2 separate regions of the Homo sapiens genome follow, and region 2 is linked to region 1. A link means that fine-mapping ties the variant in region 1 to the expression of a gene that starts in the linked region. Tissue or cell type: whole blood. Region 1 holds a variant in brackets; the other region holds the start of a gene. All regions are shown on one strand. Distances are from middle to middle.

Region 1 (5,147 bases):
GGGAGGCTGAGGCGGGTGGATCACCTGAGCTGGGAAGAGCAGTTCTGCCCTCAAAGTCAAGGATGCAGCGACCTAAAACTGCACCACTGCCATCTAGCCTGGGCAGCAGAGTGAAACCCTGTCTCTAAAAAAATTAAAAATGAGGCCAGGCGCGGAGGCTCACGCCTGTAATCCTAGCACTTGGGGAGGCCGATGCAGAAGAATTGCTTGAATCCAGGAAGCGAAGGTTGCAGTGAGCCGAGATCGCGGCATTGCACTCCAGCCTGGGTGACAGAGCGAGACTCTATCAAAAAAAAAAAAAGAAAAATGAAAATAAATTCCCAATTTATACATTCTAATAAACGTAACTGACAAAAATATTATTTAATATCTTAATCAGGTAAAGGAAAGGAAAAGAAATATTTATACTACCCATTCCAAAACTCCTGGAGTGTATATAAGTGTTACATAAACTCCTAGGCAAAAAATAAAATAAAATAAAGGTCCTCAAAAATATATAAATCAATGGCCATTCCCTGATACAACATCCCCACACATATAAAACAAAGAAGACAAAGAGTACCATATGGAACTGTTGACTAAATACAAATAAGTTCATTTATTTTTTATTTTCTTCTTATTTTTTTTTCTGAGACAGGGTATCACTCTGTACTAAGGCTGGAGTTCAGTGACGCCATCATGGCTGGCTGCTGCCTTGACCTCCTGGGCTCAGGTGATTCTCCCACCTCAGCCTCCTGAGTAGCTAGGACTACAGGTGTGCACCACCACAGCCAAATTTTTATATGTTTTGTAGAGACAAGTTCTTGCCATGTTGTCCAGGCTGGTCTCAAACTCCTGGGCTCAATCAATCCACTAACCTCAGCCTCCCAAAGTGCTAGGATTACAAGTGTGAGCCACTGTGCCTGGCCCCAAGTTCATTTCTAATACATGGAAAGGCCCAAAATAAAATCAGCAGTGGCTTTAGTCTTATAACCAGATGTATCATTCTAGTGAGCTATTCTGTCACGAGGACTCGGGCATCCAATAAAGGATCTTTCTTTTTTTTTTTTTTTTTTTTTGAGACAGAGTCCCGCTCTGTCACCAGGCCAGAGTGCAGTGGCACGATCTTGGCTCACTGCAACCTCCACCTCCCGGGTTGAAGCGATTCTCCTGCCTCAGCCTCCCGAGTAGCTGGGACTACAGGCATGCACCACCACACCCAGCTAATTTTTTTTTATATTCTTAGTAGAGACGGGGTTTCACCATGTTGGCCAGGATGGTTTCGATCCCCTGACTTTCTGATCCGCCTGCCCTAGCCTCCCAAAGTGCTGGGATTACAGGCGTGAGACACCGCCCCGGCCTAAAGGATCCTTCTGTCAACTGTCTTTCCCATTCTGCTGAGTAAAAATCTCAGAAGAGCCACCTACTCCCGTTACACACACCACTAAAGTATGGACAAAGCACAACTGAAGAATGGCTGAGGAACCTTGTAAAATAAGAAATGCATACATTGGTCTCTTCGTTGGCTCCTGACACAGAGCTCCTAACTCCTTGGAATGTTCTGGGTGATAGGAATGTGATTTGTTCTAATGAGGCAACCTCTGTAGGTTCCCTGGACTGGGCTGATCATCAGAAAGACCAGGCCATGATTACAAGCATGAAAGTGTCAGCCCTATCCACTATCCTCCAGGAAGGGAAGAGGGGCTGGAGACTGAGATAATATCAATCACACCTATGTGATGAAGCCTCCATAAAAAATCCCTGAACTAGAAGAATCACTTGAACCAGGAGGCGGAGATTGCAGTGAGCTGAGATTGTGCCACTTCACTACAGCCTGTGACAGAGCAAGACTCTGTCTAAAAAAAATAAAAAATAAAAAATAATCCCTGAACTATGGGGTCACGAGATCTTCCAAATGCTGAAGACACACAGGTGCCTGGAGGGTGGCACACCCAGTGAATCTTCCCACGTGCCTCCCCCTGTGAATCTCCTCATCCGGCTCTTCATCTGTATCCTTCAAAACATCCTTCAGCGTGAGGCAGTGAACCTAAGAAAGTGTTTTACTGAGTTCTGTGGGCCACCCTAGCAAAGTAATCAACCCCAAGAAGGGGCTTGAGGGAACCCCAACCTGTAGCTGGTTGGTAAGAAGGAAAGGTGACAACCTGCTACTTGTGATTGGTTGCTGAGGTAGGGGACGTGTTTGGGAACTCA[G/A]CCCTTTGCCTGTGGGATCTGACTCTAATTCCAGATACATAATATCAGAAAGGCATCATAGAAAACTATTAGATGGCCACTGAAAAACTGGTTGTTGGTGCGTAGAAATCCCCACCCATTCGGTTGACCAGAAGTGAAGCGCTCTCTGCTGAGTGGCATTTGAGAGTAGAAAAAACACTGGATTTTCCCTATCTCCACAAGACCTCAAGAGGCAAAGAGGGGTTGAGACGCCTTCATGCAATCTTTGAGCCCCACATGCAAAAAAAAAAGAGCAGCCAATGTTTTCCTATCTTCTGATGAGGTCTTCCTCATATAGGAAATTGTGTGGACCATACACAGGTCAAGGAGGCAGGTCTATGCAGACCCCAGGTTTGATGTATAAACTTAGCATCAGATAAAATCACTACAGAAACAGAGACCATGGGAAAAAGAGACCCCTTTGACACAGCCCTCCCTATGTCCTTCAGAATGATGGAATCAAAGAATTCTCATAAGCCATATGACAGGGTGTTGTCCATCATGATAAAGACTTTGCCTATGACACAGCAAAAGAAATAATCGGCAGAGTAAACAGACAACCCACAGCATGGGAGAAAATCTTTGCAAACTATGTATCTGACAAAGGACTAATATCCAGAATCTACAAGGAACTCAAACAAATCAGCAAGAAAAAAACAAACAATCCTATCAAAAAGTGGGCTAAGGGCCGGGCACAGTCTCTCACCCCTATAATCCCAGCATTTTGGGAGCCCAAGGCGGGTGGATCACCTGAGGTGAATAGTTTGAGACCATCCTGGCCAACATAATGAAACCCCGTCTCTACTAAAAATACAAAAATTAGCTGGGCTTGGCAGTGGGTACCTGTAATCCCAGCTACTCAGGAGGCTGAGGCAGGAGAATTGCTTGAACTCGGGAGGTGGAGGTTGCAGGGGGCCGAGATCATGCCATTGCACTCCAGCCTGGGCGACAGAGCAAGACGCTGTCTCAAAAAAAAAAAAAAAAAAGGGGGGGGGGGGGCGGTGCTAAGGACATGAATAGACAATTGTCAAAAGAAAATACAGAAATGGCCAACAAACATATGAAGAAAGACTCCACATCACTAATTATCAGAGAAATGCAAATTAAAACTATAATATAATACCCTCTTACTCCTGCAAGAATGGCCATAATCAAAAAATCAAAACATACTACATGTTGGTGTGGATGTGGTGAAAGGGACCACTTTACACTGCTGGTGGGAATGGAAACTAGTACAACCACTATGGAGAACAGCGGGGAGATTCCTTAAAGGACTAAAAGTAGATCTACCATTTGATCCAGCAAAACCACTCCTGGGTATCTACCCAGAGGAAAAGAAGTCATTATACAAAAGAGACACTTCCACACACGTTTATAGCAGCACAATTCACAAATGCAAAAATAGAGAACCAGCTCAAATGCCCATCAATCAACAAATGGATAAAGAAAATGTGGCATACTAATATGGAATGCTATTCAGCCATAAAATGGAACGAAATAATGGCATTTGCAGCAACCTGGATAGAATTGAAGGCCATTATTCTAAATGAACTAACTCACTTAGGCAGGCCAGGTGGGAAGAATAGTTGAGGCCAGGAGTTCAAGACAAGCCTGGGCAACCTAGTGAGACCTCATCTCCACAGAACATTTTTTAAAAATTAGCAAGATGCAATGGCACATGCCTACAGTCCCAGTGACTTGGCAGGCAGAGCAAGATGATCATATGAGCCCAAAGCCTGAGGGAAAACCAAACATTGTATGTTCTCACTCATAAGTGGGAGTTAAACTGGGAGGATGCAAAGGCGATACAATGGACTTTGGGGTCTTGGGGGAAAAGGTGGGAGGGGGGTGAGGGATAAAAGACTATATATTGAATGTAGCGTACAATGCTCGGGTGATGGGTGCACCAAAATCTCAGAAACCACCACTAAAGAACTTATCTACGTAACCAAATGCCACTTGTTCCCCAAAACCCTATTGAAATAATTATAATAATAACATTATGCCCGGGAGCAGTGGCTCATGTTTGTAATCCCAGCACTTTGGGAGGCCAAGGTGGGTGGATCACTTGAGGCCAGGAGTTCGAGACCAGCTTGGTCAACATGGTGAAACCCCGTTTCCACTAAAAATACAAAAAAAAAATTAGCCAGGCTTGGTGGTGCACGCCTGTAATCCCAGCTACTTGGGAGCCTGAAGCATGAGAATGGCTTGAAATTGAGAGGCAGAGGTTGCAGTAAGCCAGGATCGTGCCACTGCCCTCCAGCCTGGGCGACAGAGCAAGACTCTGTCTCAAAAAAATAAATTAATAAAAATAAATTAAAAATTAAAAAAAAAAAACCAATACTAGTTTGGGTAACACAGTGAGACTCCATCTCAAAAACAAACAAGCAAACAAACAAAACGCCAAAAACAAAGAACACAGCAGCAGTAAGAGGGGGCAAAGAAAAATTTCCCTTCTAGGCCAGGCATGGTGGGTCATGCCTGCAATCCAAGCACGTTGGCAGGCCAGGTGGGAAGAATAGTTGAGGCCAGGAGTTCAAGACAAGCCTGTGCAACCTAGTGAGACCTCATCTCCACAAAAGATTTTTTAAAAATTAGCAAGATGCAATGGCACATGCCTACAGTCCCAGTGACTTGGCAGGCAGAGGTGAGATGATCATATGAGCCCAAAGACTGAGGGTACACGGGCTACGATCACACCACCACTACACTCCAGCCTGGGCAACAGAGCAAGAACTTGTCTCAACAAAACAAGACAAAACAAACTTCAATCAGAACTCACAGGATTTAAACTTTTATTTTCCCAAAGAATTCTCTCACTTGCAGAGAGCTCCCAAACAGAAACTCAAAGTGTGGTTTTGCAGGGTACAGTGGCTCATGCTTGTAATCCCACCACTTTCGGAAGCAGAGGAAGGAGGATCACTTGAGACCAGGAGTTT
Region 2 (5,147 bases), 20 kb before region 1:
CTGTGGCACACAGTCTCAGCATCAGCAGCAGCCAGGAGCAGGGACAGACAATTCCCAGTCACTACTAAGAACACAGTCCTAGAGACAGGTGAGTGGGCCTGTTGGAAAATTCTTCCCCTTACTGTTTGAGACAGGAAAAAACCACACTGTTTTTACTACTCTCACACCCAAAGGAGAATCCCTCACCTTTAGTGATCAAAATGTGTCTGTGGTTGTTCCTACACTGACCAGTTAAACTGAGTAAAATTACAGAACACCCAGGTGCTGTCTGACGAAGAACTGCTTGTTGGTGACAAGTAATTCCCATATTACTTTGGTGACCAGAGATGAGGCATTCTGTGTTGAGCGCTCTTTATTGTGTTCACTGTGAACACAAAAACACACTGGTTTTTCCTAACTTATACACTCACACCCTAGTCCATCCCAAGAAAAGAGAAGAGTGCCTTATAAATAGTGTTCCAATTCTCATCTTCATGTGTGGTTTTTTGTTTTTTGTTTTTTGAGATGGAGTCTTGCTCTGTCACCTAACCTGGAGTGCAGTGACACGATCTCGGCTCACTGCAACCTCTGCCTCCCAGGATTAAGCGATTCTCCTGCCTCAGCCTCCAGAGTAGCTGGGATTACAGGCGCAGGCCATCAGGCCCAGCTAATTTTTGTATTTTTACTAGAGATGGGTTTCACATGTTGGCCAGGCTGGTCTCAACTCCTGACCTCAAGTGATCCGCTCACCTCAGCTTCCCAAAGTACTGGGATTACACGTGTGAGCCACAGCTCCTAGCCTCATGTGTTCTAAACAAATTTTATATTATAGAAAAATTAATATGTCACAATTCAATCATAATTTCCAATCAACTCACCACTCATCTGTAACCAGGGTCCCCCTCTTTCCTCACTACTGTTTCCCTGCCTCATTCTGTACATATCTCTCATTCTCATCTTTTTTCCTAGCTCTTTTTTTCTCTATTTTCCCCTAGGATTCTGTTCATTTTGAGTCCCTCCTCTTCTCTTTGTCCCATTCTTCCCTCTATTCCTTCTCTCCCACCTGTTCTGATCCATTTTTACAACTTGTTTCACCTCTTATTCCTCTTTCTGCCCAATCTTTCATTGTCCCTAATCTCCATATATTTCTGCCTCTTTCCTCCCACATCTCAGCTCCCCTTGGGGTCTCCCTGTTAAATTCCATCTTCGATATTACACACCCCTGTCCCCACTCTCTGGCACCCTTAGATCCCAGGCCTCCCCCTGCTGTGGTTCTCCCTGTTCTCCTTGTGACCAGCTGCCCCCTCTGGCTGTCCCAGCACCACGCTGCTCTGTCTGACCTGGCTCCAAATCCCTCCTCCTCTCCCCCCTCTGTCTGAGAAGCCTTCCCTATCTTGTTGAATTTCGTCTTTCTACAGACCCAGGTTTGTCTATATTTTTACAGTTACTTTTCTCCCCTGCTATTTTCTCGGCACCTTCTTTCACTGTGCCTCTGCAAACCCCTCACTCACCTTCTACTTTGCCTTCTGTTAATGGGTCTCTCATTCTTCATTTCTCTTTCAAAATTTCTCTATTTCCTCTGCCTCGTTCCCATCTCTTTTTCTCCACACATTCACAGGGAGGGGATTGGAATAAGATGCCCACTTCCGGAAGAGCTCATTTTCTGTGGGCTGGAAACTGGCTCGAGAGAACACTGGATGTCAGGAGACTGAAGTCACCCCCCACACTCGGGGTCAGGAGAACCGGTGGCTGGAAAAGGGAGGCCTGGGGAACAGAGGGTCCAGATTAAGGAGCAAAAAGGCAGGAGTGGGTCAGGAGAGGGGTGGAGTCTGCAGAAACCAGGTCTGGGCAGAGGACGAGGCCTCTCGTGCCCTGTTGGGGCGCTGAGCTCTAGGGGCAAAGAAGGGCGAGGCTAGGGGAACGGAGAGTGAGGATTTTACGTGGTGCGGGGCGTGTGTAGGGGTTACTAAAGGATTTGAAGCAGGTAAACCCCACGATAGGAGGTGTCTACGTGGGTAAATGACAAAAAGACCGGGCACACGACCAGCCTCCAAGCGATTTTAACACGCAGAAAGCGACTCCCAGACTCTCAAAGGATGTCTGAATTTACTCGGGGTGGAGGGAGCGGTGCCGGGATTTCAAGGTCTGCATGCCCCTCAGCTCCCGGGTATAGAAGCAGAGAAGAACTGGCTAGCCTAGACTTAACATAGACAAAGGGAAACTCACGCACTGCTGCGAAAACAGTTTCTCCCTGCAATCGGCTTCCGGGTCTACCGGAAACTGCGCTCTAGGCGTTCGCCCCCCGCGGTCCGCTTCCGGGTTTGCACGAAATTGCGCGCGCATCCTAGAGGCCGGACTGGCTGGGACCAGGGCGGGCCGGGACAAAGCCTGGGCCGGGCCTGCGCTTCCGTTCGCTTGACTGGCTGCGCTTGTTTTCAGGGTTTTGGTCTGAAAACGGATCTTACCTGCGCAGAGCAAAATCGGTTGTAGATTATATCCACGAAAATTCCTTCTATTAAAATGAATTTCAAGTCCCACCTACCCTGGAAGCAGAAAGAGAGAGAAGAGAGAGAGTAAAGAGAAAGAGAAAAGAAAGAGAAGTTGAAAAAGAGAAAGAAAACCAAGAAAGAAAGAGAAAAAAACCGAAAATAAATGGACAAGAAAGAAAAGTAAGGAGGGAAGGGAAGGGAGGAAGGGAAGGGAAGCTTTAGGAATTGAATTAACACACTTTGGAATTGTCTGTGAAGGGGATGATGCAAGCTAAAATGTGAAATGCAAAACCCTGCCAGGGTAGAATGTTCTATTTCATGCCAGTGCCCATAGAAGATAAATACTTTTCATTTATCTTCCCCATTCACTCTAGACGGTGAAGGTCAACCCTGTGCTCAATTCCAGAGACTTTCCTAGGGACATCGTGTTGGGCATGGAGGACTAAGGCCAGTGTGAAGATAAGTCACCGATTCTTTAAAAAAAAAAAGCCAGTAACTTATAAAAATAGCCATAAACGACGTAGTTTTTTGTTGTTGTTGTTGTTTTGAGACAGCGTCTCCCTCTGTCCCCCAGGCGGGAGTACAGTGGCAGGCACTCAGCTCACTGTAACCTCCGCCTCCTGGGTTCAAGTGATTCTCTTGCCCCAGCCTCCAGAGTAGCCACCACGCCCGGTCCAACTTAGTTTTTTAATACTTTTTAAAATTTTAAGACAGGGTCTCTGCCACCGAGGCTGAAATGCAGTGGCGCAATCATAGCTCACTGCAACCTTGACTTCCTGGGGTCCTGGGCAGGTGACCCCCTGTCTCAGCCTGCCGAGTAGCTGTGAGTAAAGGCCTGTGCCTCTCCACTGTGCTAATTTTCTACTGTTTGTTGCTTTGTTTTTAATAGAGATGTAGTCTGGTTTTGTTGCCCAGGCTGGTCTCCAGCTTCTAGCCTCAAGCAGTCTTCCCATCTGCTCCTACCAAAGTGCTCGGATTATAGGCATGAATCACCTTGCATGGGAGATAAGGACCCCCACATCAAGCCCTCAGGTTATTTTTGAAACACAAATACATAAGGCCCACAAGCAGGCCCATTGGCTGCAGACAGTGGGGTCACCTGAAGAACTTTTCTTTGATCTGAGTACCAACTTCTCACCTAGGTCACTGGGATCCTGGACTACGGCACTGCTCCAGGCAGGCCTGGTTATCCTGCTTGAGGCAGCAATCCTCTTGAGCCTAGTGAAATGCAACTGGCTGTACCTCAATGATGTTGCCCTGAGATTCTGCCAGTCGAGGTATTACTTCAATCTCCTGAGACCAGCCTCTACCTCCAGATCCAGGGAGGTCAGTGCACATGTAAATGGACTAGCTTTATTAAAGGGGATATCTGGGCCAGGCGTGGTGGCTCACGCCTGTAATCCCAATACTTTGGGAGGCCGAGGAGGGCAGATCACCTGAGGTCGGGAATTAGAGACCAGCCTGGTTAACATGGTGAAACGAAGTCTCTACTAAAAATACAAAAAAAAAAAAAAAAAAAATTAGCCAGGCATGGTGGCACACGCCTGTAGTCCCAGCTACTCGAGAGGCTGAGACACAAGAATTGCTTGAATCTGGGAGGTGGAGGTGCAGTAAGCCAAGATTGCGCCACTGCACTCCAGCCTGGGAGACAGAGCGAGACTCCGTCTCAAAAAATATAAAAATAAAAGGGATATCTGGATTGGCGGAGAGACTGCAGGACAGCATTCAAGTGGGGTTGAATTGGCCCAGTTGCATCTGACTTCTCACTTGTAGTTCCCAAGAATGAATATAGAATGTGCTGGAAAAGCAACATCCTGAGAGGAAGGGACCGGTGAGAAAAGGACAGGATGTGTTCCAGATCCCCAGAACAGGATCCCCTTTGTTGCTTTAGGCCAACGTGCCATGCATCCCTGGAGCATGAAACCCAGGATGGGCCGCCTTCCAGCCTCCCACAGCTGTGATGCAAGTTGAACACATACAGAGAGACTGCATCTGCACTGGGTGGTTTTCCTGAGCCTTGGGGAGCAGAATGCATGAATCCCAGGTATCTGCCGATCTGTATGTAACAAATTCACTTCATGTAACTTACTGTGTGTCCGTGAGATTATCTCTCACTCAACTCAGACACATTGGCAACCAGTGTGCAGTGAACCTGCTTCACAAGCAAGGATGTGGAGAAACTATTTTCGTACATTTTGTGGGAATCTGAAATACTGCGGTCAGTATGGAAAGCAGTATCATGGGAAACTTCCTCAACTCAAGATCACCTACCAATCCTTACAGAATCAGAATCATCATACAAACTGGTGAAAGCATAGTTTCCCCTAGAGGTTGGGATGAGGGCAAGAATGTCCCCTCTTATCACTACTATTCCACACAATATGAAAGGTTCCAGCCAGTGAAATAAAGGAAAAAGAAATAAAAGTGACAGGCTGGGTGTGGTGTCTGAGGCCTGTAATCACAGTGCTTTGGGAGGCTGAGGAAGGAGGGTGGCCTGAGGACAGGACAAAAAAAATAGTGTACCAACAGAAAATATGTTGGTTGTGCAGGCTAATACCTTTCCCAAAGGAAGGTAGCTACATCCCTATGACCTGTGTTACTGGATATATCAAAAGGGAGTTTGCAAATGTGGTCTAGATAAGGATCTTTAGATAGACATCCTGAATTATATGGTCAAAG

Evidence for each region. PIP is the estimated chance that this variant, and not a neighbour inherited with it, causes the effect.
Region 2: ZNF528-AS1 starts here. The variant in region 1 is fine-mapped to the expression of ZNF528-AS1 in whole blood (TOPMed, PIP above 0.99).

The regions. Positions count from the first base shown.
Region 1 is chr19:52,374,557-52,379,703 of GRCh38, reverse strand. The region is part of intron 3 of ZNF880 (zinc finger protein 880); the gene reads right to left. Among named protein-coding and RNA genes, the nearest start is that of ZNF880, 7.2 kb to the right of the region's middle. The variant G/A (reference allele first, on the strand shown) is at 2,191.
Region 2 is chr19:52,394,963-52,400,109 of GRCh38, reverse strand. It overlaps ZNF528-AS1 (ZNF528 antisense RNA 1), which reads left to right and starts at 2,353. Exons shown (of 7, transcript NR_125345.1): 1 at 2,353-2,648; 2 at 2,843-2,915; 3 at 3,358-3,500; 4 at 3,611-3,745; 5 at 4,360-4,512. ZNF528 (zinc finger protein 528) reads right to left here and starts at 2,261. Exons shown (of 7, transcript NM_032423.3): 1 at 2,206-2,261; 2 at 1,491-1,743. It also overlaps a transcript of ZNF880 not described here. RefSeq lists an enhancer at 1,750-2,949.